Linked DNA regions of Homo sapiens: regions 1 and 3 are each linked to region 2. Evidence: fine-mapped expression QTL. A gene starts in region 2. Each other region holds a variant in brackets. All regions are shown on one strand. Distances are from middle to middle. Region 1 holds the start of CD200R1 (CD200 receptor 1). Region 2 holds the start of RMP64 (ribonuclease MRP subunit p64). Region 3 overlaps CD200R1 (CD200 receptor 1).

Region 1 (10,441 bases), 41 kb after region 2:
CAGATCGATTTGAGGCCAGGAGTAGGAGACCAGCCTGGCTAACATGATGAAACCCCTTTCTCTACTGTAAATGCAAAAAATTAGCCAGGTATGGTGGTGCACGCCCACAATCCCAACTACTTGGGAGGCTGAGGCATGAGAATTTCTTGAGCCTGAGTGGCAGAGATTGCAGTGAGCTGAGATTACACCACTGCACTCCAGCCTGGGTGAGAGAGCAAAACTCTGTCTCAAAAAACAAAACAACACAAAACAAAAGCAAACCAAACAATATTATAGGAGTACTTGAAAAAAATGAAGTAAAAGGAGGAAATTTGCTGAAAATTTCCAGAATTAAAGATACTTTGACTAGGAAGCAGAGCACTACTTCTTACAGGTTTCATTGCTTTATCATATTTAGCCAAGTAAAAGATAGAAATATTAAATCAAAAAAGATCTTATCTACTTCCTTTTCTCAATACAGAACATTCAACATTCAAACGTTTTCAGCAGTTTCATATTTCCTACTTCTTCTTTTCCCAAGGTGAGATAATCATAACAGTATTCTTTAGAAAATTCCCCTACACACATTTTGAAATCACATTAAATCACTCCAAGTTATTGGTAGTATATTAGTAAGTAAAAAGAAAGCATATAAGAAAGAAAGATCACTAGTAGGAAAATAGTCATAAAAGCATAACTTAGTTGTCAATGGAGCATAAATGATTTTAAGAAAAAAGTCTTAATATAGGCCTTCAGACTTTTAAAATTCTTAAATTTCCTGTATGGAATATCTGAGCTTTTATGTTTCAACAACATAATCAATGCTACAAGTGACCAAAATAAAAACGACTTTAATAAAATGCATTTCAGAAAGTTGTGGTAAAATGGAAGCAGTCACGAAACACAAGTGTTCTGTGGCTTCTGGTATCTGTTTACCTTTTTGCTGCTGCCCGCAAGTTAAATGATACAGTATTTTAGTTTTAAAAACCATGCTTTTGAAGCTGTAACTGCATCCTTCTTTTTCTAATCCAGTAGAGTGGAGATGATGTGAAATGGTCAAATTCAGGAAACATTTTAAAGTAGAGACCAAAAAGACTTGCTGATAGATGAGGAAAAGCAAAGAATCAAGGAATTGGACTTTTACATCAGGTGATACAGACTAAGAAATTTAGATCAATCTTCCCTCTCAAGCCAACTAGAAAATCTAGACATAATCATTTTAAAAGTCTACTGGATGGCAGATCAGTGACCTAGCAAGGTAATGAAGAATTACCTCACCAAGATTCAGAAAAAGAAAGAAATACAGATTGATGAAACTGGCATTGGAACTACATTTACCCTTGAGATGTTTACTGATTGATATAGAAGAGCTAGTTGAAAGGTGAGCAGTACCTTTTGTAGCCTCTTGAAATGAGAAAGAGTGGTTTGGGATAGGATGGAGTGGACGATAAAATCACCCCTTATATAGTGTCTTAGGCTGTTTTGTGTTACTATAACATAATACCACAGAATGGGTAATTTATAAAAGAAATTTATCTCCTACACAGTTCTAGAGGCTGGAGAGTCCAAGTTTGAGGGGCTGGCATCTGGTAAGGGCCTTCTTGCTCATCATAACATGGTTAAGGGTATCACATGGTTAGAGAGGAAGAGTGTGCATGTCAGCTCAGGTCTCTCTTCCTCTTATTAGAAAGCCACCAGTCCCATCGTTGGAGTCCCAACCTGATGACCTTATCTAATCCTGCTTACCTTTCGAATGCTGTACCTCCAATCAACATATAAGTTTGAGGATTAATTTCCAACATGAAATATGGAGGACACATTCAAGCCATAGCACATAGACTGCAACCTACCTTTGAGTCATCTGATTGCACAGAAAATTCTAGTCCTTAAAACTGGATTAAGGTGACTCCTGATTGCTACTGTTTATGGACTCCTGGCAGAAGCAAATGAAAATCTCCAGAGGAAGACAAAATTTTGCAGGGCCTCAAATAATTTCCAGTTTTTCTGCAATTTGAGAAAGAAAACACAATACCTGGCACATGAGGAGACCAAACATCACAGAAAGAACCAATAGAGATTTACCCACCATTACTTCAAATATTGGAATGATCAGACAGAGACTTTAAAATATTATTTTTATGTTTCAGGAGACAAAGGACTAAAAGTTTTGGTGGAAAACTAAAGTTACAAAAATGTTAGCAGATTCGAAAAAATCAAATAGCATCTGAGAACAGAAAAAAAAACAACACAGTAACCCAAAACTAAGAGGCTGAACTGAAATTTGAACCCAGAAGTTCAACTTAGGAGCCATAACCTTAACAGCTCCTCTCAAAATTAGATAAAAAATTGTGACATTCTTAAACTCCAACTGTAACTAATTAGAGTTTAGCCAACTTAAACTATTTTTCAGTTATTCACTGAAAACATTACATTATCTTATAAAAGATAGACAGGATGGTCAAATTTGGGGACAAAATAAGCCATTGATAAAATAAAACTGTGATGGATCAACAGAACATTTATCATTTCTTTGAGAAAGGCCCAATAAAATTTGAATAAAATTTCAGGCAAATATAAGCTTCTATGACTGACATAATTTTCATGATTCATATTCTTTTGTTAGAAAGTTATATAGAACTAATTTGCTTATCAATTAATATTGTCTGAGACATTTAAGGTAAACCCACTTGGCTCAGTCTAGACTATTTCTTTTTAAAATGTTCTGCTCTTCTTGACTTTAATATTAGGGTGTTCTGGAGATCAGATGATACTTGTCTCTCTTCAGCATGCTTTGCCTTGATGTTAGTTTTTAGCCAAGGTATATGATTGGGCTTTTCCTTTAAAAAATTTATTTCCATATCTTCTGGATTTCTCAGTTGACACTTACAGATGAAAATTACCTGACTGCCTCAGGGAGAAAATATCTTAATGCAGAGCTACTTCAAGGTTATATTTTTGACAAGATTTTCCATTAATTTGGTTTCTTGGGAATGAAAGACAATTGGCTGAGTGGAATATCATTGCATTTGAGACTAGATTTAGAGTGGATTATTTTCCAACATTTATTCAATTGGCAGACAAACACTGTGGGGTACCATCAACCCCCTTCATTGAAGGACTTTGTTGCTCCAGTGTTGACAGTGTTTTCCACAGTTCAGGGATTGGCCTCTTCATGGATTTCCTTACCCAAGGTCATGGTCTTTCCCGTGGCTATAACAAATGACTCATAGATGCAGAAGTGTAAAGATCTGCCCATTTCAGGACAACAGAGGACAACTCTAAGGGGCAGTTTCAGCTCTATAGCTCCCCATAGGGCTAGCTGATTCTGGTGTGGGCCTACCATATAGTGTGATTCCCTATACCCACATCAGTTTCTGTTCCTTCTTATCCCCAAGTGATGATCTGAGGTTACTCCTTAATATAATAACAATTCTTCACATTAAACTCCGTCTTGGAGTTTGCATTCCAGGGTACCCAAAGGTGGCAATCTTTGCAAATTTTCATGCAATGAGATAGGGAATCTATCTTCTATCCATCCATCCATCCATCCATCCATCCATCCATCCATCCATCCATTTATCCATTTCTTTACACTGCTGCTTTTAAAACAATTTTTAAATTTTATAGAGATGGGCTCTCACTATGTTGCCCAGGCTCGTCTCAAACTCCTGAGCTCAAGTGATCCTCCTGCCTCAGCTTCCCAAAATGTTGGGATTACAGGCATGAGCCACCATGCCTGGCAGCACTGTTGTTTTATTAAACCATCCTGGCAACTCAAAAGATTCATTTTTGTTTTTTTCAGCAACATTTCTTCAAGGTATAATATCTGTACTATCCATCAGGTAGTCATTTGTTATGTTGCAGCAGTTTCCAAAAGATGTAAATTAAATGTATAACATTTAGGCATGTTAGCATACTTTGTGATCAAAATCTTAATGTGAAGCTATTTTTGAATTTGCTAGATAAATTTACAAAAATCTTAGCATTGATTTCACCAAATTATCTCCAGGGGGCAGCAGAGAGTAATCTTAATGCAAATAGATGATTAGAAACAGCACAGGGTTTGCTTATTTATTTAAACAAAACAGACCAATTTTGAGCAGGTAAGGAAGAAAGAGTGAATTAGTACATAAATAGAGTCAGTAGGGGTTAGGAACCTGGGAGATGTATTGGAGACAAAACAGAGTTACCACCTTCAAAAAAGTAGATAGTAAAGCAGAGACTAATTAGCCACATAGTTTAAGAAGTAGACTTTGGAGTGAGATTTCTTGGGCTTGAATCCTGTTTCTATCACTTATCAGCTGTGTGGCTTTTGACAATTTACATAACCTCTCTGCTTTGAGTTTCCTCAATGGTAAGTGGTATTTACTATATAGGATTGTTGAGATAATTAAATTAGGTAATATTTATAAACTGCTTAGAACAAGATCAGGGTGTTAAGCTTAGGGCTTGACAAATACTTGCTATGGATCTGACCAGTGAGATTTACAGTTGATATTTAGCTAAATATAAAATGTGATTACTAATTTCTCTACTCTGATTTTGCTTATTTTGATACTGCACACATTTGATTTTCAAACATCTATTTCTCAATTTTCCTTTTTGTATAATCTGTAAAATTATAATAAAAAATAATCATTAATTCCAATATGATATATTTTTTCTAACTTTTTAAGAAGACTTTTTATACATTGACGTAGATCAACCATATATTAGGAGTAAAAATTTTCAAGAAAAATCAATATAATAGTAGGTATAAAAATAGAAGTATGCATTTTTTGAGGCTCTTTTAAGTTACTGTTTAGTCTATTTAATGATTGTCCATGGAGGAAGATACAGGATTTCAGATGAGTCTTGAGAGCATGGGTCAATGAAGGTTACAGAGAGGTAAATTGGAAAATAGAAAATGGAATATGCCCAGGAAAGCAGTCTTTTTATGCAACTGTATGTTGAATTATAGCATTTCTGTGGTAATTCATTAGATTCAGATCTGTAGTTATTGTACAAGGGAGCAGAGAGGAAGTAAAGACAAGAGTGGAGTGCTGTAGAGTTTGAGTCCCTTGAAATTCTTTAGACTATTCGGTATTGTTCTTTTTACCTCTGTGAAATTGGCATGTTACCACTTGGCTAGCAGTAGGACAGAGTAGATTGAGGGAATTAGGACTAAGTGTTTCGCTAGCATATTTGTGTGAGCGTGTGTGTGTGTGTTATGTTTGTGTGTGCACACATGCAAGTGTATAGAAGGGTAAGTCAGGCCAGATATCTAAGCCAGAGAGTTCACCAAAAGTAACAGTGACAAGGCAAGTAGTTATTGGCCCATTTTGCAAGAATGCACATCCAGAAAATTCAGCTATGGTAGGAAGGGCAGGCAGGTGCTGAAGTTCTCGGCAGTCAAGACTCAAATATAAGAGGTGAATGAGTCGGCAATGGTACTGGGGAGCAAAGGGTCCCGGGAACGAGAAGTCAGGAATAAAAGTCCATAGAATCTTTGCAGTAAGTATTCAAGAGCCATGCAAATCTTCTACATAATGGGGAGGAATCCCAAGAGGAAGGCTGCAACACTTCATCTTAAATGGTTTCAGTGTGGCTAAGTCTGAATCTGACATTGGAGAGAAAGATATACACCTGATTGGAAGAAGTTTACTTCAACAACATTTATAGTTATTACATCAATTTTCAGTTTATTGCAATTGATAAATTGAGTAAACCAGCCATGCTGGTTTGGGGGCATTATGGCCTAAAGTAGTTCTAATTTACTAAAGTTTCTCTGTCTTTTTGTTTTGGCTACAACATTAACTGGCATTACATTGTCCTGTTTGTTTCTCTTATGCTATGATTCTTAACTGGTATTATTGAAGGAGAATTGGAAAACTGGTAGAGTAAAAGGTTTGGGTTTCTGGTTTGAATGACACCTGTTTCTTGATCCTTTTTCACTCTTTTGCTTTGCTTCCTGGGTCCTGTGCCCAAGGGCCGCAACCAGGGAGAATTTGGGGCCTTTAGATTTTTTAGAGAGGTGTATTTACCAGACACATCTTTCTCTTATTATACTGACTTTCATGGCATGTCTTTAGTGGATGATTATGTTAACAAACTTTTAGTCCCTTTATTGTTTTAAACATTCATGGTCCATAAAAGGTAGAAGGTGGGAGTTGAGAGGTTACAGGCATGTGATTTGGGGGTGGAGAGGATGAGGGACCAGGGAGAGAAACTGTCATCCTGCCAAATCTATTTAGTGAATTTTATGGTTTTTGATACCCATCACTTGATTCTTAAACTGCTGATTGCAGATTGTGGTCTGACCTCAGGTGAGTGCATTGGAGTGTGTCTATGAAAGTTGTTGCCTGAAATTTCAAAGTAGAGGAGTTGAGTGAAAAGAACACAGGGCTACGAAATATAACACATTTTATTCCCAGCCGTGCCAATAAGTTGTTTTGAGGCCACAGGCCATTTAGCCCTTCTGTGGTTTAGTTTTGGCTATGTCATTGAGCAGATATTAAAATAAATGATCTCCAAGAATTTTTGATGACATGAGAAAAAGCTAATGTCAATATAATATAAACAGATACAGACTTGAGTAAGAAACTTTCCCAGT[A/G]TCACTGGACTAGTAATTGCACAACAGAGACTTAACCCTATGTCTATCTGTATCCTAAGCGAGTGTGAATTTTAACTTTAACTTCTCTCTGCTCACTGCAACCTCTGCCTCCTGGGTTCAAGCGATTCTCATGCCTCAGCCTCCCAAGTAGCTGGGACTACAGATGAGTGCCATCACACCTGGCTAATTTTTTTTTTTTTTTTTAAGTAGAGATGGAGTTTGGAGTTTTGTCATGTTGCCCAGGCTGGTCTCGAACTCCTGAGCTCAGGCAATCTGCCCGCCTCGGCCTCCCAGTGTCCTAAGATTACAGACATGAGCCACTACTCCCGGCCAACTTTCACTTCTATGTAGTGGAAAACCAGAATATTATCTGTATTTTAAATGATGTATTCTCACTAATTTTCCGACACCTGGTGAAACATTAGACAGAAGAGAAGACATTTTTGTTTTGGTCTTCCCATTGTCACAGCTCATACCCTTAAGTGTTCCATGCCCTCAAGGATCTGGTTTCACTGTCTTCATCAAATTAATTAACTGGAAAAAAAAGCTTGAGAAGGGGAAGGGGGGAAATATTTATAATGTTTGGCAAGAAGGAAGATGAAACTGCTAACTGAGAAAAAAAATGCATGCTGTTTAATCTTTTTCCTGTTTGCAATGTTTTCTTCCCCTTCCTGTACAGTTTTGCCTTGGGGCAGAAAATTCTCAGCACATAGAAGATTTTTCCCTCTCTCAGACATAACTTAAAAGCATAGTAACATAGTAACTAGCAACAGTAAGGAAGAGGTTTTTTTGTTGTTGTTGTTGTTTTTTTTTTTTGGTTAGGGGGAGTCTGAATTCCAGATGTGTGGCAACTAAGAGATGGGTGATTATTTGTAATTTGGTTAAAATGATCAGTCTAATTTTCCAAAGGTGAAACTGAATGGCAATAAGTACTGAGTTCTGATAAACAGAATGCCCTCACCCCCAACAAGGTAGATACCTATGTCCGAATTACCGAAACCTGTGAATGTTACCTTGTGTGGCAAAAAGGACTTTGCAGATGTGATTAAATTAAGATCTTGAAATTAGATCATGTTGGATTATTTGGGTGGACCAAAAATAATCACAAGGTCTTTATAAAAGGGAGGCATAAGGGTCACAGTCAGAGAAGATGTGACAGTGGACCAGAGGTCCGAATGATGTAGCTGCAAGCCAAGAAATGCAGGCATTCTCAAATCGCTGGAAAAGGCAGGGAGCAAATTCTGCCCGAGCCTCCAGATGGAGTGCAGCCCTTCCAACACCTTGATTTTAGTCCCCTAAGATCCATTTCAGACTTCTGATCACCAGAACTGTAAGATAATAAATGTTGTGTTGTGTTAAGCCACTGAGTTTGTGGTAATTTCTTACAGTAGCAATAGGAAACTAATACACATATGATGTTTACAGGGTTGTGTGTTGACTCCCATTATAGACAGGAATTTCACACAATAATTTTCAAGAAAACATATTGTATTCCAGACTCAAATACTAAGGCCGTAAAGCTCTTCAACCTGGAGAAAGCCTCTAAAAGTCATCATAATTGGGAAATTTACAAGGATGGGCCAAAGTAGATCAATATTCTGTTTTACTTTTTGGTGCAAGTTTAGACAAATCTGTTTATCTTGGACACGTTCAATGCCTTACTGTAAAGTTTGTCTGTGTACAGCAGAAGTGAGAGGAGAACCAATGAGCTGAGAGATAATTCAATCAATCTGCTTCCTCCGTCTTTGCTTCAGGGCTTCATACAGGAAATCTATTGCTGTGTCAAGTTCCAGAGAAAAGCTTCTGTTCGTCCAAGTTACTAACCAGGCTAAACCACATAGACGTGAAGGAAGGGGCTAGAAGGAAGGGAGTGCCCCACTGTTGATGGGGTAAGAGGATCCTGTACTGAGAAGTTGACCAGAGAGGGTCTCACCATGCGCACAGTTCCTTCTGTACCTGTGTGGAGGAAAAGTACTGAGTGAAGGGCAGAAAAAGAGAAAACAGAAATGCTCTGCCCTTGGAGAACTGCTAACCTAGGGCTACTGTTGATTTTGACTATCTTCTTAGTGGCCGGTAAGTTTGAATTCTCTTTGGGAGAACAGTGAGAAACCTGGTCTCAGCTCTTCCTGAGTTTATTTTTTGTCTTTCTTCTGGGGCAATACAAATCAATTGCAATAATAAATATAGGGGGTTGCTAAATATGGGTTACTCCCATATCTAGTTTACTTTATTATCCTTTTTTCCGGTGTCTTGCTTGTTGTACTTTGTATCCTACTACAATATACAGATCTCTATAATTTGTCTTACTGTCCATTTCCTTATTTCCTCCTGTTTTTTGAACAAGGCAGGATAAATCAAATACATACTAGCAGCAATCAAAGTCAGTTAGGTTCTCTTTATCTTATTCTCTTCCCCAACCCCCTTTTTTGAGACAGGGTCTTGCTCTGTTGCCCAGGCTGGAGTGCAGTGGTGCAATCGTAGCTCACTGCAGCCTGTAACTCCAGGTCTCAAGCAGTCCTCCCACTCAGCCTCCTGAGTGTCTAGGACTACAGATATGCGCCACTATGCTTGGCTAATTTTTAAAATTTTTGGTAGAGATAGAGTCTTGCTATATTGTCCATGCTGGTCTTGAGCTCCTGTCTTCAAGCAATTCTCCCACCTCAGACTCCCAAAGCATTGGGATTACAGGCATGAGCCACTGCACCCAGCCTCTTCTCTCTTAATTTTTTTTTTTAAGATAAGAACGCTAACTCATTTAGGTCCACATTGCCAGTGGCATAGATTAGGACAGTTTATTGCTTTCTGTCACTTTCGATGATTAGGCACTTCAAAAATATAATATGCCTACAGTTACAGTGGTGCGTCTGTGATGTATGTCTGTATTTATCTTCAAGATGTGTGGGCTGTAAGAGACACTACGAGTTAGAGAACAGACTCTTCAACATCTAGGTTCCTATAGAAGTTATAGAGAACTTGGGCCACTGTGGGGGTGTCCTGGTTTCACTGTAGAAGGTTGGTAGGAGTTGGTGTGGGAGGGAGTTTTCAGGTTTCACTTTTGGTAGACAGAGCAGCTGCAAGGGAAGAGTGTAGTTGGTTTTAAATGTTATAATTTGATAATTGAAAGAAGAAAAGGTATTTTTCCTCATTTCTGAATGACTTTAAAATGCTGCTTATCTTCCACAAAAAATCTTCTTTCCACATGTTAATCTTACTAGTGAACACATGCAAAATAACTACACTCTTTGACTGCACCTTTCTATTGAGAATTTTCACATGCTTTTTTCCCTTTGATCTGCACAGCAACCCAGTGAAGTAGACATGGAAGACACCTCTCCATTTTACAAAGGTAGAAATGGAGGCGTAGAGAGGTGAAATGATTTGGCCAAGGTTAGATATGACTAGTATGTGCCAGAATCACAATCAGTAATGATATACATCAGTAAGCACCACTAAACATTTGAGTGGGCAATTTTCCTCATTATTTAACCATTGTGCTTTTCACTGAAGAGCATCAGTGAAAAAAGTCAAGCCAATACTTAGTTTTAGCCTTAATAGACTGTTACTCACCTAAAAAGTCAAGTGATCTGAATCTTTCAGTAGTTCAGATCTTGTTGTAGAAAGCTCTTATAGCAACTTGTGTAGGACCCAGCTTGGCTGGGGCAGCCAGATAGGCAAGGAGCTGTTTATGTCAAATTGCACTGTTACTCCTGGGAAAAGGAAAAAAAATGATTAAAACATAATTTGTAATTTTCAATTTTAAAGGTTGAAAGGTTTAAATTTTAAAACTATTTCTGAACACAACTAGGAAAGACTACATATAGCAGATCTATGAAGTCTATGCTTATGTTATTGTAAAGTTATTAAATGTTT
Region 2 (10,441 bases):
CTATCTAAGCTACTAAAAATATTGTTTTATATTCATTGTCTCTACTTCAACCCTTTGCAATCACTTTTGAGCTATAGTCCCATTTATTCAACTGGTGAACTGCACATTTTCTCGTGGATAGCCATGGACAATCTCAAACTCAGTATATCGAAAGTTATCTTATCACCCTTGCCACCTCCCTAAATCTATTTTTCTTCTGAATGTCATATTTCGAACTTAAGGTGAAAATCTGGAAGTCATTTGTATTAGTCCATTCTCACATTATTATAAAGAACTACCTGAGATTGGGTAATTTATAAATAAAAGAAGTTTAATTGACTCACAATTCTGCAGGCTGTACAGGAAGCACAACTGGGGAAGCCTCAGGAAACTTACAATCATGGAGGAAGGTGAAGGGGAAGCAGGCACATCTTACATGGCCAGAGAAGGAGAGCAAGCGAGCAAAGAGGGAGGTGCTACACACTTTTAAACAACCAGATGTCCTGAGAACTCACTATCATGAGAACAGCAAGGGAGATTTCTGCCCCTACTATCCAATTGCATCCCACAAGGCCCCTCCTCCAACATTGGGGGTTATAATTCAACATGAGATTTGGGTAGGGACACAGACCCAAACCATATCATCATTCTAGACATGTAAATATGTAAATAGGTTGAGCATCTTTAAACTGAAAATCCAAAATCTGAAGTGCTCCAAAATGCCAAACTTTTTGAGTACTGACATGATGATACAAGTTACCCTGAACACATTAATTTTCACTGTATTAATGGTATATCATTTTTTTTACTATTAAGCACATATGTGTGAATAAGAGAAAAAAATGGTTGCTTAACAGCAGCATATAGGCTGGGTGCGGTGGCTCACACCTGTAATCCCAGCACTTTGGGAGGCCAAGGCGGGCAGATCACAAGGTCAGCAGATCGAGACTATCCTGGCTAACACAGTGAAACCCCGTCTCTACTAAAAATACAAAAAAACATTAGCCAGACATGGTGGTGGGCACCTGTAGTCCCAGCTACTCGGGAGGCTGAGACAGGAGAATAGTGTGATCTTGTGAGGTGGAGCTTGCAGTGAGCCGGGATCGTGCCACTGCACTCCAGCCTGGGCAACAGAGTGAGACTCTATCTCAAAAAACAAACAAACAAACAAACAAACAAACAAAAAAACAGTAGCATATAAATTCAGAGTCAGGAATGATGTTGACACCAAACAACCACAGACTGTCCACATGGGTGATTGAGATGTACACAAACTTTGTTTCATGCACAAAATTATTAAAAATATTACATAAAAGTTTCTTCAGGCCATGTGTTTAAGGTAGATATGAAACATACATACATTTCATGTTTATACTTGGGTCCCATACCCAAGATATCTCATGTATATTTGCAAGTATTCCAAAATCTAAAAAAAACCGGAAATCTGAAACAATTTTGGTCCCAAGCATTTCAGATAAGGGACACTCTCCACCCATGCTAGACATCTAAATAAGTCATACTGTCTATATCCAGTAGAAATGCTTGAAGGTTTGGGTCTGCATCATTTCTGGCCTTAGCTTTTGTAATAGAACAGATGGGCCTGGTCTCCTTACTTCCAACCTCTTCTCTCCCAAATCTGTTCTCCAGGGTGCTCTTCTTCTGAGGCAAGCTGACAAAAATTGCTCTGCCTAAGACTCAGTGAGTGACTCCTTTATCACCTATAGCAAGGACACGTCAACCTAGAGTACCATCACAAAGACCTTTTCAAAACAGACCTACTCAGAACTAATGAGTAAGAATTTTCAAGTGGGACCTGAAAATCTCTATTTTTAAGTTATCCAGGCAATTTTGATAATCAGCCAGGTTTCTGAACTACTGGTCTTCAGGTAAAAAGCCAAATTCTTCCCATGATCTGACTGACACCACTATTCCCAGCTCCACCCCTCAGCACAAATCACGTCCCAGCAGTACCAACTCAGGACTAGTGATTCTTCAAACCCATGCTGCTTAAAACCTCTCTGTAGGAATATCCTTTTTCCTTTAACTGCCTGGGGAGTTCCTATTCATCCTTCAAAAGACTCTATTCAAGCATCATCCAACCTCATATACAGCCAGTAAATATCTACTGAGGCCCTACTATATGCCAGGCTCTGAACTAAGCATTGAGATAGAAAGACCAGTTAGCTATGTCAATGGTAGTTCTCGCTTTCAGTAGGTTCATATGCCATTGGAGAAATAGACATGAAAGTAAACAAAGAAATACAATAAAGCGAGGTAAATTCTGTGAGAGAGGCTGTGGTAGGCTGAATAAAGATCCCTCCACCTCCCACCCAAAGATGTTCACATGCTAATTTCCATAATCTGTAAATATGTTACCTTGCACTGAGAAGGGATTTTGTAGCTATATAACCTTGAGATTTCAGCTGCTTGAGATTTCAGCACCCCAGCATTTTTGTGTGTGTGTGTGTGTGTGTGTGTGCATGAAATAATGAAAATTTTGAACAGGCCCTTGCTTGCTTGTACATGTTAACCACTCGCTTTTTGCCCAGTATTCCTTGTTCCCACAATGTAATTATAAACTGCTGATGTACTGTTTCTTTGTCAAGCAGAAGGAGATAACTTCAGGGTCATAAGAATAGTTTGCAGAAGGAATGAATTCCTGGAAGGACATTGCAACCAGCTGCCATGTACATACGGCTGCACAAGGTGTTACCTGAAATGGAAGAAACACAGACTTTTCCCTTGGATTCCTTGAAACTCCCTCTCCATTACTCTCTAGCTCCATAAAAACTCCCTGCTTCTTTTTTGTTACTGTGGATCTGAGAGATCTTGCTCTCTTGCCCTCTAACTTTGGTCAAATCGAATAAATATTTCTCTGTCTCCAAGCACCAGTATCTCAATATTTGGCATCAGCTGCCCATCGGGTACATGAGCCTGAATTTGGAGTTCTAAAACAGATGTGATTAAGTTAAAGATTCTGAGATGGAGTGACTATCCTGATTATCTTGATGGGCTCAATGTAATCACAAGGGTGTTTTTAAGAGGGAGGCAGGCAGGAGGGTGAGAGAGACAGAGGAAGAGGAGGAGACTGAAAAATGTCATGCTGACAATGAAGGTGGAGGATAGTGAAATGAGCCAAGGAATGAAGGCAGCCTCTAGAAGCTGGAAAAGGAAAGGAAATGAATTCTTCCCTAGAGATTCCGGAAGGAACCAGCCCTGCCAACTTCAGTCCATTGAAATTAATTTTGGACTTCTGACCTCCAGAAATGTAAAATAACTTCTACTTATTTCAAGCCATTAGGTTTGTCGTAATTGGTTACAGCAGCAATAGAAAACTAATACATAGGCCAACATAGGGCACTGTGGTAACACATTAAAGGGGCCTCTGTATCAAGTTATGGAGTGAGGACGGGGTGTTTAGGAAGAATTACCCCAAGTGACGACCCCAGAGCTGAGGAAAGGAGATTGTGTTTCCGAGGATGACCCAGGTAGAGTAGGTAGATGTGTAAAGGCGCACAGAAAGAGCATGGAAAGTGTTTCAATAAAGTAAGACTGCTTGCATGAAATAGTAGTAATAACATCAACAATATTAACTATGGTAAATGTTCATTGTTTGTATGCCAGGAGTGCCTTGGCATTTTACAAGTCTGTGAGATTGATACTATTATTATCATCTTCATTTTACCCACAGGGATACTAAGGTCTGGAGGAGGAGGTAAGTAAATTTCCTGAGATCACCGAGCTAGTAAACAGCAAAGCTAGAACTAGAACCTTGGCAGTCTGTTTCCAAAACTCACTGTTTTTCTAATACGTTACTGTGGGAGTGTTAAGAACTTAAGGGGGCATTAGCATGGCTGAGGATAAATGAATTATTAGAAAGATATTAATGAGGTAAGGATCACTAGAGCTTGGAATATGATCTTGTCTTGGAGACTGACAAAAGTGGGAATGACTGACAGGTGTCTTCCAAGTTTCTTTGATGTGATCTCGGTTTTGCTGTGGTTCAAGACATAAAGGAGCCTTCCTTTACCACTCAAAGCAAATCACTGCTTCTTCGCTACAAATTCCACACCTTGCACAAACCTCTTCATTTCATTTCTTCCTTTTTCCCCTAATGTCTGAGGCAGAGTTGGGGGTAAAAGCACCAACTCAATTCTGGGCCTCATTTTCCATATTTGTAAAATGCCTAGAAGTATTTAACAGTTCCAAACTTGGTTGTGCTTCCGAATCCCCTGCGCTAAGTTTAAACAAAACGCAGATTCCTCATCGCATTCTCAGAGATTCTGTTGGTTAGTATTGGGATGGGGCCTTTTTTCCCCCATGATTCTACGCGGCCACGTGTTGGTAACCAATATACAGATGACTGGGTCCTTCCCAGTCCCACGCGTTTACTCGATGAAGGCAGCCTCCCGCCGGGCTCCTGGCCCCGCCCGAGCCCCACCCCCTGCTCCCTTCCGGCCCGGACTGGGTCCCATCGCCCCACCTCCGGTCGCTGGACGTGCTCTCGCGTAGCTCCGCCTTTCGTAAGTCCCCCCGCCTCGCATGATGGCTGCGGTGCCGCCGGGCCTGGAGCCGTGGAACCGTGTGAGAATCCCTAAGGCGGGGAACCGCAGCGCAGTGACAGTGCAGAACCCCGGCGCGGCCCTTGGTGAGTGAGGCGCCGGGCGAGGATGGGGGAACGTTTCCGGGGGAGGCCGCCAGGCCCAGCCGGCGCATGTGGGCGGGGGTGGTACCGGGACTTCCCGGCCCGGGGGACGCTGGGAAGGGGCGCGGGGCACGTAGGGGTCGAGCGGTCCCAGCACTTTGCTGGTGTAGCTTGTAGGGCCTCTGGCTTCGCATTCCTTCATTGAACCAGCTGTGCTAACCCAGGGCTTGGCTGGAGAGATGAAAGACCAAGGCTCAGCCGTGCGCTGAGGGGGCGGAGAGAGGTGGACTCAGCTGGTGCCGGGGAACAGTGCTGCCTGGGAACCCTTGCTCACCCGGGTCTTCGGAGTCTTGTTTACCCTTCCGTCCATTTCCCCTTTCCTTCTTTTTCCTGTACCCGAGGAGCGGTGGACGTCACCTAAGCACTGGGACTCAAACTGCAATCTTTTCGGACCTCTATCTGCTTATCTGTGAAATGGAGTTAGTCCTCCTACTCCTCACAGGGGCGTTGGGAATATCTAATGATGTAATTTAGGAGACAGTGCGCTGTAAACGACGGTGTTTTGCCACCTAAATGGGTGGTATTTGTTAGGGTGAAGGGCATATAGTAGGTAGGAGCCTGGCGCAGGAGCCAGGTTGTTTGGGTTTGAATACTAGCTCTACCCTTTGCTGGAGCTTGAAGGAGTCATTGAACCTTTCTGTGCCTCACTGATCTCACTTTCAAATGGAGATAAAAGCACCTTCCTCATAGGGCTGTTTGGGGGGATGAAAGAGTTGATAATGTAGAGAAAGCATTTGGAACACTGCCTGGCATGGTAAATGAACACTCAAATGGAAGCTGTTATGAATATTAAATACGTAGCTCCGGGGCCCAAGGGAGAGAATACAGTCATGGGTTCTTTGTTTCCGGTTGGGCTGGTAAAGCCCTTTCCTCATCCCTCTTTTCACTAGAGACAAACTAAAAACCATGGCTTTAAGCTGCAAAAAGCCTAAAACAAAACAGAACAGAACAACAAAATAAGGCGGGTTGGACAAGCTTGACTTAGATCATCACATCCCCTTTCCCATATATCCATCCTACACACTTTACAGATTATCCCATCTATCCTTCCTACACACTTTACAGATTAATCTTCCCTCTTTCTCTATTCAAAAATTCTTTAACAACTCCTATTAGGCCTGGGAAATTCACCAACTCACTACCCATCCCCGAGGCAGCCCATTCTGTCTTCAGGTAGTTGTTGGGACAGTAAGAAAATTCTTGTTAGGTAGCAACCAGCCTTTACTTCCATTTAGAATGCTAGTGCTGCCTTTAGAGCCATAAATAACACATGAACTACATCTTAGGGACTTCTACAGATTTTCAGACTAGGAAGCATCTGCTGATGAGCACCCGGTGTTCATCAAATAATACGATTTCCAGTTACTGTGGTGGTTTTTCTTTTCTGAATATGTTTGTGTCTCTCATAAAGTGATATCCAAACACAGAAGCCTTGATTTTGAAGACTGTGAATTTATTCATTCTGTCTTGCTTTCGGGCATAGCGACATGGGGAGTTAGAGAGTTATTACACATGTTGTGACATGTGCCCTACCTTCAAGGTGGGGGTTAAGTGTACACATGAGGCGTAAGTGTACACCAAATGACTGACAGCAAAGTATTCATATGAAAGATTATTAAACCATGATAAAATGCAATGCAAAGATACAGCTTCTTGTTTTACAGATGTTCTCTTAATGATTTCCTGGACTTTATATCATCTGTTACCATTTTCCAACTTCTCTTATACTTAGAATCCTTACGTTCTTACAGTTGAGACTGATTACATTAGTTTTTGATTCCTTTAAAACAAATAAGGAAAGATGCTTTTTTTAGTGTGTTTTTAATATAATATACTTACTGTAGAAATACATACTAAATCTTATTAGATGTCTCTGCTTCAGACCTTTGCATTGCAGCTGTAATTAAAGAATGCCATCTCGTCATACTGTCGCTGAAGAGCCAAACCTTAGATGCAGAAACAGATGTGTTATGTGCAGTCCTTTACAGCAATCACAACAGAATGGGCCGCCACAAACCCCATTTGGCCCTCAAACAGGTGAGGAAGCCCGGTAGGTGAGACCCAACCTGTTCACTTGAAAATGTAGATCACACTGCCACTTACTATATTGCTATTTATGGAAATCTCGTGGAAATCTCAGTAAATTACTTGTGTTTTATAGGCCTATAGCCCACAGTTACATGTGCACTTTCTTTTTTTTTCCTAAAAGCATTTCAGCATTTCAAAAAGTAATTTTTGTTAGAAAAGAAGTATGTTTAGATTCTTTCCCAGTCTTGTTTCTAATAGGCAAGTAAACATTTTCTTCATTATATACAATCTATAACAACAGTGCCTTTGCCCAGCTCAAAGATAAAGTGATTTGAGCAAGACAAAATGTTGGACATTAAGAAACAGTTCCCTGGGCATAATCAGAATGCTAAAATTATTTTTAAAAAAACTTGTCTACTTATTATGGGGTACATAATCTAATTGGTGGTATGTTAGAGTAAATGGGTACATAGCAAGTTGTGGTGTAAACTGGTTTCATGTAATGTTTGGAGCTTAAGACAAAATTGGGCCCTCCAGCTCAGGGGCTATACCATAGAGTAGAGCCTCTCTTAAGCTGGCTTCCTGATATGCTCATTCATTCATTCACTTAATTCTGCAAGTATTTTCTGGAAGTTCAGAAGGCTATCCATTGTGTGACAGGGCTACCTTGCAAGTGTTTTTGAACTTTCTGTGTGCCAGGCATTCTGCTTAGTGCTGTGTATAGAGGAGTGAAAAAGGTAGACACAGTCTCTAACCTTATAGATGCATGCTTTCTGGTTAGTTTTCTACCCCTAGTACTTAAAGCAAACAGGGTGAAGATTTCATCAAAGAAAGATCTGGGACCATGGTCTTTCCCTAAATTTTCCATTCTAGGGTGGCTTTTATCTTTTTCGGAGTCTTTTTGATCCAAAAGCAAGCTTGCTAACCCTCAAAGTGAATATATTTCTCCTTCTAGCTTCTGGGTTGTGAATAATCACCCCGTCATCAAAATTTGGCATTCTCTAGTCTCTCTCTCTTACGTAGCTCTCCCATCCAGGCAGTCCATAAGACAAAACTTCCTCTGCATCTGGTCCCCTCTTCAGTTCTGGCTGCCATTTTCCTTTCTTAGACCTTGTCAACTTTTAGTTGTCTTACTATCATAACTGATGTTTCCTCCTTCAGCTTTTCCTAAGTTCTGGCATATTCTAAATATTAAAACCAGGTTAATCATCTGAAAACACAACTTTGATTTTTAGTCGTTCTCCATTGTGTCCTGAGTAAAGACCAAACTTCTTAGTTTGGCTTACGAGATCTGTGATCTGGCCTCTTCAGTCTTCTTAGTTCGGGCTTCTCTCTTGCGTTCAGATAGATTATATTCCAGCCAACCTGGACTCAACACACCTGCATGCTCACTATGTTTGTTCCTGCTTCTGAGTCTGCTTACCTGGTCCTGTATGTTTAGAATGCCCAGCCTCACCATGTCTGCCTGTTAAAGGCCTTCCTATCCTCTAAGTCCCATTTTAAGCCTTTCTGGCAGTGATAATCTGTGTTATAGTAATCTCATTTTAAGTTGTATTTTTCTGATTATTACTGAAGTTGCTTTTTTTTTTTTTTTTTTAAATTCTTGGCTATTTGGGCCTCCTCTTTGTACTTATAGCATTTAATATAGTCTGTGTCATGGTAAAGTTATTTGTGTATATATTTTATATTCCATGTGATCCCTGAAGTAGGAAACATGTTTTATGCTTATGTTACTGCTGCAGCTGCTATTACCACTTCTACTACTGCCTTACAACTGCTTAATATTTCACAGTTTTCAGAGAACTTTCATGTAAGTACTAGAATTGGCCTGTCTCTAAACATTCCCCTAAATGGAACACAGAAAGTAGTTTTGATTCCTGTTCTGTGGAGTACATGTAGGGCATGCTGGCAGATAAAGTGGTATTAGAAACTTCCCTATCTCTAGTTGCTAAAAATCTAGTAGTAAAAATAGGAAGACATGTAAAATATTTAATTAAATGCTAAAATAAAAACAGACCCTATTTAAAATTGCAATCTTCTCAGCACTCCCTCTCTGCCTTATTTGTCTTCATAGCACTTAACACCACCTGCCATTGATTGACTGCCTTTCTCTCCCAGCTATAATGTAAGCTCCACAAGGGCAATGTATTTTGTCCCTTTTGTTTACCACCATAATCCAGTTCTTAGAACAGTGTTCAGTAAGCACTCAATAGGATTTTTAATTTTTTTTAAAAAAAGTAAGAGCCATGCATGGTACAAAATGCTGTAGGAATTCTGTAGTCCTCAGGAATAACACACAAAGGGCAGCATGGGACTGCATCTAGACAGATACAAAAATTTGGATGGGCATTGATACTGGCAACAAGAGTATCTTGCCAGAGCTGCAAATATACTTCTAGAAATTGAACCAAGGTTATGGATTCTGTTTTAACAGCGGTTTTCAAGAATAATGGAGGGAACAATCCTTAAATTCTTTAGGGTCAGCTCCTATCTTTTTCAGTTTTCAAGTCTGGACACCATCCTTTGAGGGAGGTATTGACAAACCCAGATGGTAAAGCACTTGGAAAACATAGTAAGTGAACTGCGGTTCAAAAGAGAAAAAAAACCCAAGAGAGAGAAGGGAGAAAGAGAGAAGATGCAGAGGAACATAAGAACAAGCTTCATCTAATCAAAGAATATATTTGTTCAGTGATTAAAGCCAATCGTTTTCCTCATCTCTGTGGTACTTTATAGACTGTTGAAATTTAGTAGTTAATAATTTTCTATCTTGTTTTAATAGTTTCACTATTAAAAATCATGTTGTCGGCCAGGCGCGGTGGCTCATGCCTGTAATCCCAGCACTTTGGGAGGCCGAGGTGGGCGGATCACAAGGTCCAGATCGAGACCATCCTGGCAAACACGGTGAAACCCCGTCTCTACTAAAAATACAAAAAATTAGCCTGGCGTGGTGGCGGGTGCCTGTAGTCCCAGCTGCTTGGAAGGCTGAGGCAGGAGAATGGTGTGAACCCAGGAGGTGGAGCTTGCAGTGAGCCGAGATCACGCCACTGCACTGCAGCCTGGGCGACAGAGTGAGACTCCATCTGAAAAAAAAAAAAAAAATCTTGTCTTAGCAAAATTATAATCTTGAGAATAACCTATACTCGTTTTGGTCCCTTTTATGACATCAAGCTCATTGTGGCATATACTAATTTCTTAGGAGTCACCTGATTTTAAAAATGTGTTTGGCTGGATAAATTCCAAATTTGTAACTAGAAGCAATTGCTTGCGCTTTGGATTTCTCTACCCTGAAAAAAAATAAGGTATTCTGTGATATTTAGCATATTTCCATACTTTGAAAATCTAGAAGTCTTTGCTTTCCTGGTCATAATCAGTGACCCTGTCTGCATTACATACACATGAATTTGAACTGCTCTTCTTCTTTCAGGTTGAGCAATGTTTAAAGCGTTTGAAAAACATGAATTTGGAGGGCTCAATTCAAGACCTGTTTGAGTTGTTTTCTTCCAAGTAAGTAAGTGGTCCAGTTGCTTTGTGATGTGGTGGGCTGGGAACTCAATGTCTTGTGATCTCCCTTTGGATTTCTCTATGCTTGCTGTTGGAATATAACCAATTATACCTCAGCTGTATAAATTTTGTTTTAATGTGGGGTACCTGGTGTTTGTGGTAATCTTCTGACATTGATCTATGGGAGTGACTGGTGTGACATTGAAATCTGGGTCATGGTAGATTATA
Region 3 (10,441 bases), 53 kb after region 2:
TATCTCTTTCCAGTCTATAAAAGATAGGAAGATCTGAGAAGAGACAGGAAGGGAGCCAAAGTGGAGTATCAATTGAGTGCTTAACCTCATGTAGGAGGAGATACTCTTCTGAAATTGAGGATTAAGATGAGACATTAGATAGAGGGATGCTAGTAGCTTGAGGATGGCAATAAGGTAATGGGAACAAATGAGAGAGTTTACCGTAGATAAATTTCCTCCCAATAAGGTCATGAATATTTCAGTTAATGGCATTTAGTTAATAAAATGACCCAGTTGTTGTTTGATTTTATGTTGTGTCTGAAAAATTAACCATTTGTGTCTGAAAAACCATTTGTGTCTGAAAAATGTAGTAGCCATCAACATGTTTTTACCTCTTCTGCCTTATTATCACTCACATACATTTGTCAATTGCTGACTGGGATTTGGGAGCAGATCTGTGGTTATAAAATACCTTTGGACTATGTGATGCTAGTAGGCCCTAAGAATCAAGTCAACAATCATTACTTTTTAAATAATAATAATGGTAATAAATATCACTGATTTATATAATTCATATAATAGACACAGTCACAATCAGCCCTTTTTCCCCCCAGGAAGAAATGATATTGTTCATGCATTAACACTAAGCAACAACTTCAGAGTTTTTCTACATAGAATTTATATGCCTAGACCCCATTCTAGGACCAAAATCTTTAAGGAAAGCAATACCAAAAAGTTCCAGGATTAAAGCAGGGCTAAAAGTTTTTCTATTTCTTTTTTGAGACAGGGTCTTACTCTATCTATCACTCAGGCTGGAGTGCAGTGGTGCAATCATGGCTTACTGCAGCCTTGACCTCCCAGTCTCAGGTTATCCTCCTGTTTCAGACTCCCAAGTAGCTGGGACTACAGGTGTGCACCACCACGCCAGGCTAATTTTTTTTTTTGTATTTTTTGTAGAGACAGGGTTTTCCCATGTTGCCCAGGCTGGTCTTGAACTCCTGGGTTCAAGCAATCCTCCTGCCTTGGCCTCCCAAAGTGTTGGAATTACAGGCGTGAGTCACTGTACCTGGCCAGTTTTTCCACTTTTGAAGAAATAATTTTCTTCAAAAATGTCTGTTACTTTGAGTTATTGTTGCTGTTGCAGGTTCTCTTGGAAGTTAGACTCTGAGATAGAGTTTTGTGTACAGTATGCTTGTGAGCAGAGGGAGAAGTCTACCTGCAATCTCAACCAACTGACACCCTCACTGACCCCACAGGGAGCTCAGGAGCTAGATTGGCCTTAGAGAGGCCCTGCATTGAATAAAAATGGCTGTTCCTTTATAACTCCATCTAAATCAGTCGTTGGATATGGGCTCCCCTGGAAAGGGTCTGACTTTGGTCTAAGTAACTGAAGTCATCCCTGGAGAGGCTGAAAACTGAAGACTGTCTGTTGACAGTGATCCTAGTGGCAGGAACAAAAAGTCAGAGGCAACTGTTGGTGGCACATACTATGTCCACTCTAGTTGTCATTTCTAATACTCTTAATTCCTTCTTGAATTTCCAAGTTTCTACCTGGTATTATTTTCTTTCATCCTGAATAATTTCTGTTATTGTTTCTAGTAGTGTAGGTCTGCTAGTGAGGAGTTCTCTTAGTTCTTAGTTCCCTTTTTATACATATTTTCCCCAATATCTTGTCTCTCTGTTCTTTTGATTGAATAATTTCTATTGCTATATATTCAAGTTCACTGACAATTACAATTTCCTTTCTCCTCTTCATTCTTCTGTAAAGCCCTAGTTAATATATTATTTTAGATATTGTATTTTTCAATTTTAAGATTTCCATTTATTTGTTAAAAGTTTTTTTTCTCTGCTGAGATTTTTCTGTGTTTTTATTCATTCATTGTGAGTATATATTTCTTTATGTCACTAAGCATAGCTGAATGTTGCTGTAAGACTCTTGTCTGAGAATGCGAGTGTCTGGGTCAACTTGAAGTTGTTAGTCTCCCTTAATGTATTTTCTCCTAAGCATAGGCCACATTTTCTTGGTTCTTTGTAAATTAAATAGTTTTATTTGGGTTTTGAATGTTGCACAGATTCTGTTATATTGCTGTGTTGATATTTTACTTGGTTGGACCCAAACTGCAAACTCTACCCCTTGGACAGCATCTCAAATCTGAGTTCTTTTACTGGTAGCTAATCTGCTTTGACTGTGACCTGCAATGTGTGGTTTAGAGTCATCAGAGATATGGGTAGAGTGTATGCAGAATTTGGAACTCTTTTACTCTGACTCTGTCACTTTTCAGAGAGTAAAGTTGCCCTAAAATCTGCCTGCTGGTTCTTCAGAAAACTGTGGGCTTTCCATTAGAGTAGCTGCCTAATGTGGTATCATCTGCAGCCCTCTCTGGGACTAACATCGGTAAAAATGGGGAAATAATGGGAACCTACACCCACAACTCTGATCCCCTATTTCCTTCTTCCAAGCATTGACACCCTTCAAGAATTTTTCTGCTTCCTCCACTTTCCAGTAACCTCAGGTAGTTGTTTTTATATTTTGTCCACAATTTATAGTTCTTACCTGTGGAAACTCACTGGCCCATAAAGAAGTGAAACTTTCTTCAAATATACATATTTTAAAATATTATTGTATTTTTACAACTAATATTGACTTAGTGGTTATATTGTCTTGGATGTTAAGATTGAATATATTATTATGCTTTTTTGCTTTCTAAATGTTACCCATGCATTGAATGTTTTGGTACATTTCACTTTTCTCAGTAAAATTTCGTTCTTCTTTCCCATAATTTCTAGTAAAATTTCTAGACACTAATTTAGATACCAATAGATACCAATTTCTAAATACAAATATAACTCTGTGTTGGGTCTAAAGATCAGTTATGTAATTCTAACCACTAGCTGTTTCATCTTTAGAAATTGCTTAACTTCTTTTGACAGTAATTT[C/T]CTCATTTGTGAAATGAAGATGTATGACACTATTAAGAAGTATAAAGCCTTCACAAAGGAAGTACTTTAGGAACCTTCAAATTAAAAATCTTTCATTTTATACATGGGGCAAATAAAGCCCAAGTGTGTATGTGGGATTGCTAATCATATCAAACAGCTTTCTGGGGTGTGAGCTGAGTTTTGAACACCTTCATAGTACAAAAATTAGAGGGGAAAGGGATGGGGCAAGTGTGTGGGAGAAAAATCTATGTCTTTTAGATGTGATACACTTGAAATGACAGCAAGTATTCAAGTGGGGACAAATTTCAGCTAAATGTTTGAGATTCTTGCTTAGGAAAAATAAGTCAAAGCAAAAATGTGGGTGGGTTATTCTGTCAGCCAGTAATTTAGAGTGTCTGTCATGTATCAGTCACTGTGCTTCATGCTGTGGACATTTGATCAAGACAGACATAGGTCCTGCTCTCATGGAATTTAAATCTGGTGGGAAAGATAGATATTAAATCAATTACTGCAAATAATTAAACAATGCGCAAGTGCATAAGGATAAATATAGGGTGACATAGAAATGTGTAACTGGTGAGTCTAATCTGGTTTGAGGATCAAGTTAGGCTCCTCCAAGGAAGTGATGTTTAAGATGAAGATGAACAGAAACAGCGAGGTAAGAAGAGTTGAGGGATAAACATTCCAGGCAGGTCAAACAGGCTTAATGAAGGACAGAGGGAGCTAAACTATGACTGGAGTGGTGAAAACAAGAGGAAATCACCTGTATAGAGATCTAGTTGAAGTTCAAGGGGTTAAGGAGCAAGAGGAGAGAAAGTGTAAAGAGAAAAAGCAGCTGAGACTTTGGTGAATACTGACATTACGATGCCCAAGGAGAAAGATAGCTTGTAGAAAATATATGAGAGGAGGCAGTGAAGATAGGGAAAGAGACAGAGAAGGGAATGCATGGGTGTAGTGGGAAGGCTAGGAAAGGGGTTTTAGAAGGAGAAGAAAGTGGTTAATTGTGTTAAAATCCATCAACAACTTAGGAACACCAGCACTGAAAAGAGGCCAAAAGCTTGACTATAAAAGGGCTGGTGACCTTGAAAATTGCAGTTTGAGTAGATAGACGTGGGAGCAGCGAGATTGCTGGTATTGAGGAGGGAGTGAGTGGGAAGGAAATTGAGGCTGTGGGCACAGACCACTCATTCAAGAAGTTAGGCAGCAAAGAAAGGAGAAGGGATCCTAGCTAGAAGGGGAAGTAAGCATCTAATAAAGTTTTTTTTTTTCTACCAACATAGGGGAAACCTGAATGTGTTCAAAGGATATTATTTGAGAAAATTCAGTGATTTGGAAGAAATATTTTTCCAACCAGTATGTGTTTATGTAGTTTTAAGGTGTTCAGTAATTTCTTTTCTTTTTCTCTGCCATTTTGTTACCTTACCATGAATGCTACCTTTTCCTAAAGGTTTATCCATTACATAATATGAGAATATCTGGTTATATGATTCATTTTGTGGTGCTGATAATTCCTTGAAAAAAATGTCCAAATGGTAAATGTTTACAGATCCCCAATAATAAAATCTAGCTATTTTTATTCTTCACAAAATTATCCTACTTATCTTTAATTGGCTCTTCCCTAGTTGTTCCCCAGGGATGGTTCTAAACCAGTGATTTTAAGGTAGTTGCCAGACAGAACTCCCTATAGAGCCTAAAATTGCCTATAGAGCTTAAGCCTGCTTAATCAGACTTTTCCAGTGTATAGGGATCTAGACTTTCACAAGTCTTTTCAGGGTTTTCTGATGGGTGCCAGGGTTCAGAACACTGCTCTAGGTCTTTCCTAGTTTCCTCATCACCCCAACTATCCTCATTTCCTTTGCAGACAGCTGCTCACCTCCTGATTTACCATTGTCCAGTGTGGACTTCTTTAATGTCCACAGATGGTAAGGTTTCTGAGAGCAGGAACCTTGCCTCATTCAAGCTGCCATTCCCTGAGCTCTGCCGAGCTACTTGCCACTAAGTAGGTACTAACAAGTGTTTGTTAACCTGCTTCCTCAAAATGTTTCTTGTGTCTGTAATAATTCTTAACCTTTTTGTTCGCCTCTCAGAGATGAAATATCAATCTCTTTAAAAGCAAACCTGCTTTTTGTCTCATTCCTTCTAGTACCTCTGGGATCCTGCCTGACCAGTTAGCTTCCTCATTCTAGTAACTTCTGGCTCTCCCTCTTTCTGTCTACAAACATGCTGTGTTCCCCTTTATTATTAAATATCTTTTTTTTTTCTTTTGAGATGGAGTCTCACTCTGTCGCCAGGCTCGAGTGCAGTGGTGCGATCTCGGCTAACTGCAACCTCTGCCTCCTGGGTTCAAGCAATTCTCCTGCCTTAGCCTCCCGAGGAGCTGGGACTACAGGCGTGCGCCACTGTGCCCAGCTAATTTTTGTATTTTTAGTAGAGACGGAGTTTCATCATGTTGTCCAGGATGGTCTCCATCTGTTGACCTCGTGATCCACCTGCCTCGGCATCCCAGAGTGCTGGGATTACAGGCATGAGCCACCATGCCTGGCCTGTTAAATATCTTCTTGATCCCTCATAGCTCCTGATGTTGCCCCATCTCTCTCTCTTTCAAGTTTAACATGAAAGGATGAAACCAGTCTCATTTCTCCCATTCTTTCAAGGTCAGCATTCTTGAAAGACTTAAGTCTACATTTGTTGACTCCATTACCTCTGATCAGCCCCTTTCAATCTGGTTTCCACTTGTACTTCTTTGTTAAACTTACTCTCTTTCAGATCTTAAGGTCACTGATGATCTTCTTGTTACCAAATCACAAAGCTTCTTAATTCTTAGGTTAAGACTGTTCTGCATATGATTTAATCTTGATTCTTCCTGTCTTGAAACCTCCTCTTTACTTGGTATAATAGTCCATTTTCACACTGCTGATAAAGACATACCTGAAACTGGGCAATTTACAAAAGAAAGAGGTTTAATGGACTTACAGTTCCACATGGCTGGGAAGGTCTTATAATAATGGTAGAAGGTGAAAGGCACATCTCACATGGCTGCAGACAAGAGAAGAGAGCTTGTGCAGGGAAACTCCCATTTTTAAAACCATCAGATCTCATGAGATTTATTCACTATCACAAGAACAGCATGGGAAAGACCTGCCCCCATGGTTCAAATACCTCCCACAACACGTGGGAATTTAAGATGAGATTTGGATGTGGACACAGCCAAACCATATCATTCTGCCCCTGGACCCTCCCAAATCTCATGTCCTCACATTTCAAGACCAATCATCCCTTCCCAACAGTTCCCCAAAGTCTTGATTCATTTCAGCATTAACTCAAAAGTCCACAGTTTAAAGTCACATCAGAGACAAGGCAAGTCTCTTCTGCCTATGAGCCTGTAAAATCAAAAGCAAGTTAGTTACTTCCTAGATACAATGGGGGTACAGGCATTGTGAAATACAGTCATTCCAAATGGGAGAAATTGGTCAAAACAAAGGGGCTACAGGCCCCATGCAAGTCCAAAATCCAGCAGGGCAGTCAAATCTTAAAGCTCCAAAATGACCTCCTTTGATTCCATGTCTCACATCCAGGTCATGCTGATGCAAGAGGAGGGTCCCCATGGTCTTGGGTAGCTCTGCCCCTGTGGCTTTGCAGGGTACAGCCACCCTCCTGGCTGCTTTCATGAGCTGGCATTGAGTGTCTGTGACCTTTACAGGGGCAGAGTGCAAGTTGTCAATGGATCTACCATTCTGGGGTCTGGAGTATGGTGGCCCTCTTCTCACAGCTCCACTAGGCAGTGCCTCAGTAGGGACTCTGTGTGGGGGCTCCAACCCCACATTTCCATTCCATACTGCCCTAGCAGAGGTTCTCCATGAGAGTCCTGCCCCTGCAGCAAACTTCTGCCTGGACATCCAGGTATTACTGTACATCCTCTGAAATCTAGGCAGAGGTTCCCAAACCCCCATTCTTGACTTCCATGCACTGGCAGGCTCAACACCACATGGAAGCTGCCACAGCTTGAGGCTTGCACCCTCTGAAGCCATGGCCTGAGCTGTATGTTGGCCCCTTTCAGCCATGGCTGGAGCAGCTGGCACACAGGGAACCAAGTCCCTAGGCTGCACACAGCATATGGACTCCTGACCTGGCCCACAAAACCATTTTTTTCTCCTAACCCTCCAGGCCTGTGATGGGAGGGGCTGCTGTGAAGGCCTCTGACATGCCCTGGAGACATTTTCCACCTTGTCTTGGGGATTAACATTCAGCTCCTTGTTACCTAGGCAAATTTCTGCAGCTGGCTTGAATTTCTCCTCAGAAAGTGGGATTTTTTTTTTCTATGACACTGTCAGGCTGCAAATTTTATCAACTTTTGTGCTCTGCTTCACTTATAAAACTGAATGCCTTTAACAGCACCCAAGTCGCATCTTGAATACTTTGCTGCTTAGAAATTTCTTCTACCAGATACCCTAAATCATCTCTCTCAAGTTCAAAGTTCCACACATCTCTAGGGCAGGAGCAAAATGCTGGCAGTATCTTTGTTAAAACATAACAAGAGTCACCTTTGCTCCAGTTCCCAACAAGATCCTCATCCCCATCTGAGACCACCTAAGCCTGGATTTCATTGTCCGTATCATTATCAGCATTTTGGCCAAAGCCATTCAACAAGTCTCTAGGATGTTCCTAACTTTCCCACATTTTCCTTTCTTCTTCTGAGCCCTCCAAACTGTTCCAACCTCTACCTGCTACCCTCCAAAGTCAGTTCAACATTTTTGGGTATCTTTTCAGCAGTGCCCCACTCTTCTGGTACCAATTTGCTGTATTAGTCTGTTTTCACACTTCTGATAAAGACATACTTGAGACTGGGCAATTTACAAAAGAAAGAGTTTTAATGGACTTAGAGTTCTATGTGACTGGGAAGGCCTCACAATAATGGTGGAAGGTGAAAGGCACATCTTACATGGCAGCAGACAAGAGAAGAGAGCTTGTGCAGGAAACTCCTGTTTTTAAAACCGTCAGATCTTGTGAGACTTAATCACTATCATGAGAACAGCATGGGAAAGACCTGCCCCCATGATTCAAGTGCCTCCTACTAGGTCCCTCCCACAACACATGGGAATTCAAGATGAGATTTGGGTGGGGACACAGCCAAACCATATCACTTGGCTTTGTGGCATTGCATTTATATCCTACTTTTCTTCACTGTTTTTGTAAAGTGCAATGCCTCCAAGAGATCTCTAATTATAAATGTTTTCAAGGCTCTAGTTTTGGCCTTTTCTCTAACATCAGAGACTGCAATTTGGCAGCTCATGGGTTATATCTGGCTTGCAGACACTTTAGCTGATACATGTAATTTTTTTTAAAAAGTTAGCTGCCAATTAATAATAAAATTTGGACATTTTACCTATAATCCCTGACCTAGTGTCTGGGGTGGCAATAAGGATTAAGCCCAATGATGCAGGTAAAGTACTTAGTGCTGCATCTTCATTTATAAGCATTCAAAAATGACAATTTAATGATATTTTGTGGTTTTCAAAGCTCTTCTTGTATATTATTTGATAACATTTAATTAGCCCCCTACAGACCAGCTTTTTGGTTGTTTTCAGTTTTTTTAAATTACAGTTTCAAAACTGTGTCAGATTTTTTGGAAAACAATGCTAGAATTAGTATCCTGGTACACATATCTTTGCATATGTTAATATGCATATGTATTCAGTGTCTACATATCCATTGAATGTATTGTCCTTTGTGATCAGTGATACACATTTACACAACATCTGCCTTAGGTTAGGGAACATGTTTGTCTTCATTAAGTAGTTTTGGAGTTTGTGACAGTAATTGCCTCAAAAAAATACTCCCAAAACCAAAAATTAAAACCCAAAAAACAAAACAGGCCAGTAAGATGGCTTTTATTAGCAATACACCCTAATAACTGCCACAGACTTTATATTGCCTTAAAAAGTAGGGCCAAATTTATTAGCATAATACTTACTGCTTTCTAAATTTTGTCCTTCCATCAAATTCATTATTGAATTGTTGTTTTGAAACTTCCTACTTTTCTAAACACTTCTCACCTTTCTTTTTATAACCCATCTGTATGTTTTATTTTTATCCCTATGTTGTACCTAAAGAGTAGAATTATAATTACTGTGTCACCTTTAACATATTTAATCTTTTGTCAGCCTGTTCATACCTTTGCCCATTTTTTCAGTTGAGTTGTCCATCTCTTTTTTTATTGGTTCATGTGTTTTCAGCATATTTTTTGAAGAAAATTAATCTTTCTTTGTTTTAAATGTTGCAAACATTCCCCAGGTTTTTGCTTGGCAACATTGTTTTATGTATTTTTCTTTTTCTTTTTTGTCATACAGAAGTTTCAAATTCTCTCTAGAGTCAGACTTCTCAATATTTTTCTTTATGGTTTCCATGTTTTATATCAGGATTAGAAAGATTTCTTAATTGAAGGTGAAAAACTGCATCAGTTTGCCTGGAACTTTTTTCCTAGTTTTAGCATGGAATGTCCTGCATCCCAGGAAACCTCTCAGTCTGGCAAACAACGATGTTAGTCAGGCTGTCTCTTAAGATTAAAAAAAACAAAAACAACAAAATTACTTATATTTTCTTCCAGTACTTTTGTTTTTGTTTCTTATATTTAAATCTTTTATTTATTTTATTTTGGTATGAGAAGTGAAATAAGAATCTGATTTTGTTTTATTTTCCCACATGGCTAGCTAGTTCTTATAATAGTATTTATCAATGACATATATAATCATCTTTCCCTCCAGGAATTTGAGTGGCAAGTGGTATCAGATACTACATTCTCATATATGTAGATGAAGCAACTAGGGTTTAGAAAGTAACCCCTGCGAGATTCCAGGGGTAATAAATGAAAGGGCCAAAATATTAGTCACTTTTCTTATTTTAATTTTGAAATTTTTTTCTATAATTGTCTCTGCCAGAACTTTGAGTTTTCACCGCCCGCCTTTCTTTTTTTTGCTGAACATCTAATTTGGTGTTCACATCTGCTACTAACTAGATGTGTTTAAAAATTAAAATCAGTTTCATAAAGTGTCGGAACATGAAACATACAGCATAATCAATTCTTCAAATTGTGTTTTAAAATGCTAAAAATAAAAAAGTAAGTACTAATCTGTACTTTTTGTATTTCTTTGTACTTTAGTTTTCTTTTATATTAACATAAAATATATATTGCATTTGATTTACATACATTTTAAATAATAATTATACTGTGAATACTTATGTCAGTTAAGAACAGACTACTGCCATTTCCTCCCCAGTTATATCCCCCAACCTCTGCGTTAAACGTAGTCATTATCTTTTGAGGTATAGTTATTCCCTTTGAGGTATAGTTACTCCCTGCTTTTCTTTACATTTTATCATGTGTTTGTGGAATCCCAAACAATAACATTTATATTGTCTTTTTTTGGTATTGGTGCAGAAACGGAATCATACTGTGTATATGATTTTATAACTTCTTTCATTTATTCATTATTTTAGAGATTTATCCATGTTTAAGTTTGTATTTGTT

Evidence for each region.
Region 1: its variant is fine-mapped to the expression of RMP64 in blood mononuclear cells (TOPMed, PIP 0.92).
Region 3: its variant is fine-mapped to the expression of RMP64 in whole blood (TOPMed, PIP above 0.99). The same link has a PIP of 0.9 or more in neutrophils.

The regions. Positions count from the first base shown.
Region 1 is chr3:112,972,994-112,983,434 of GRCh38, reverse strand. It overlaps CD200R1 (CD200 receptor 1), which reads left to right and starts at 8,332. Exons shown (of 8, transcript NM_138806.4): 1 at 8,332-8,644. The coding sequence starts at 8,578. The variant A/G (reference allele first, on the strand shown) is at 6,572.
Region 2 is chr3:113,013,728-113,024,168 of GRCh38, reverse strand. RMP64 (ribonuclease MRP subunit p64) reads left to right here and starts at 4,498. Exons shown (of 9, transcript NM_015412.4): 1 at 4,498-4,627; 2 at 6,567-6,721; 3 at 10,137-10,216. The coding sequence starts at 4,522. NEPRO-AS1 (NEPRO antisense RNA 1) reads right to left here and starts at 4,651. Exons shown (of 3, transcript NR_186663.1): 1 at 4,463-4,651. RefSeq lists a silencer at 4,710-4,819 and an enhancer at 4,980-5,049.
Region 3 is chr3:112,960,500-112,970,940 of GRCh38, reverse strand. The region is part of intron 1 of CD200R1 (CD200 receptor 1); the gene reads left to right. Among named protein-coding and RNA genes, the nearest start is that of CD200R1, 9.4 kb to the left of the region's middle. The variant C/T (reference allele first, on the strand shown) is at 2,917.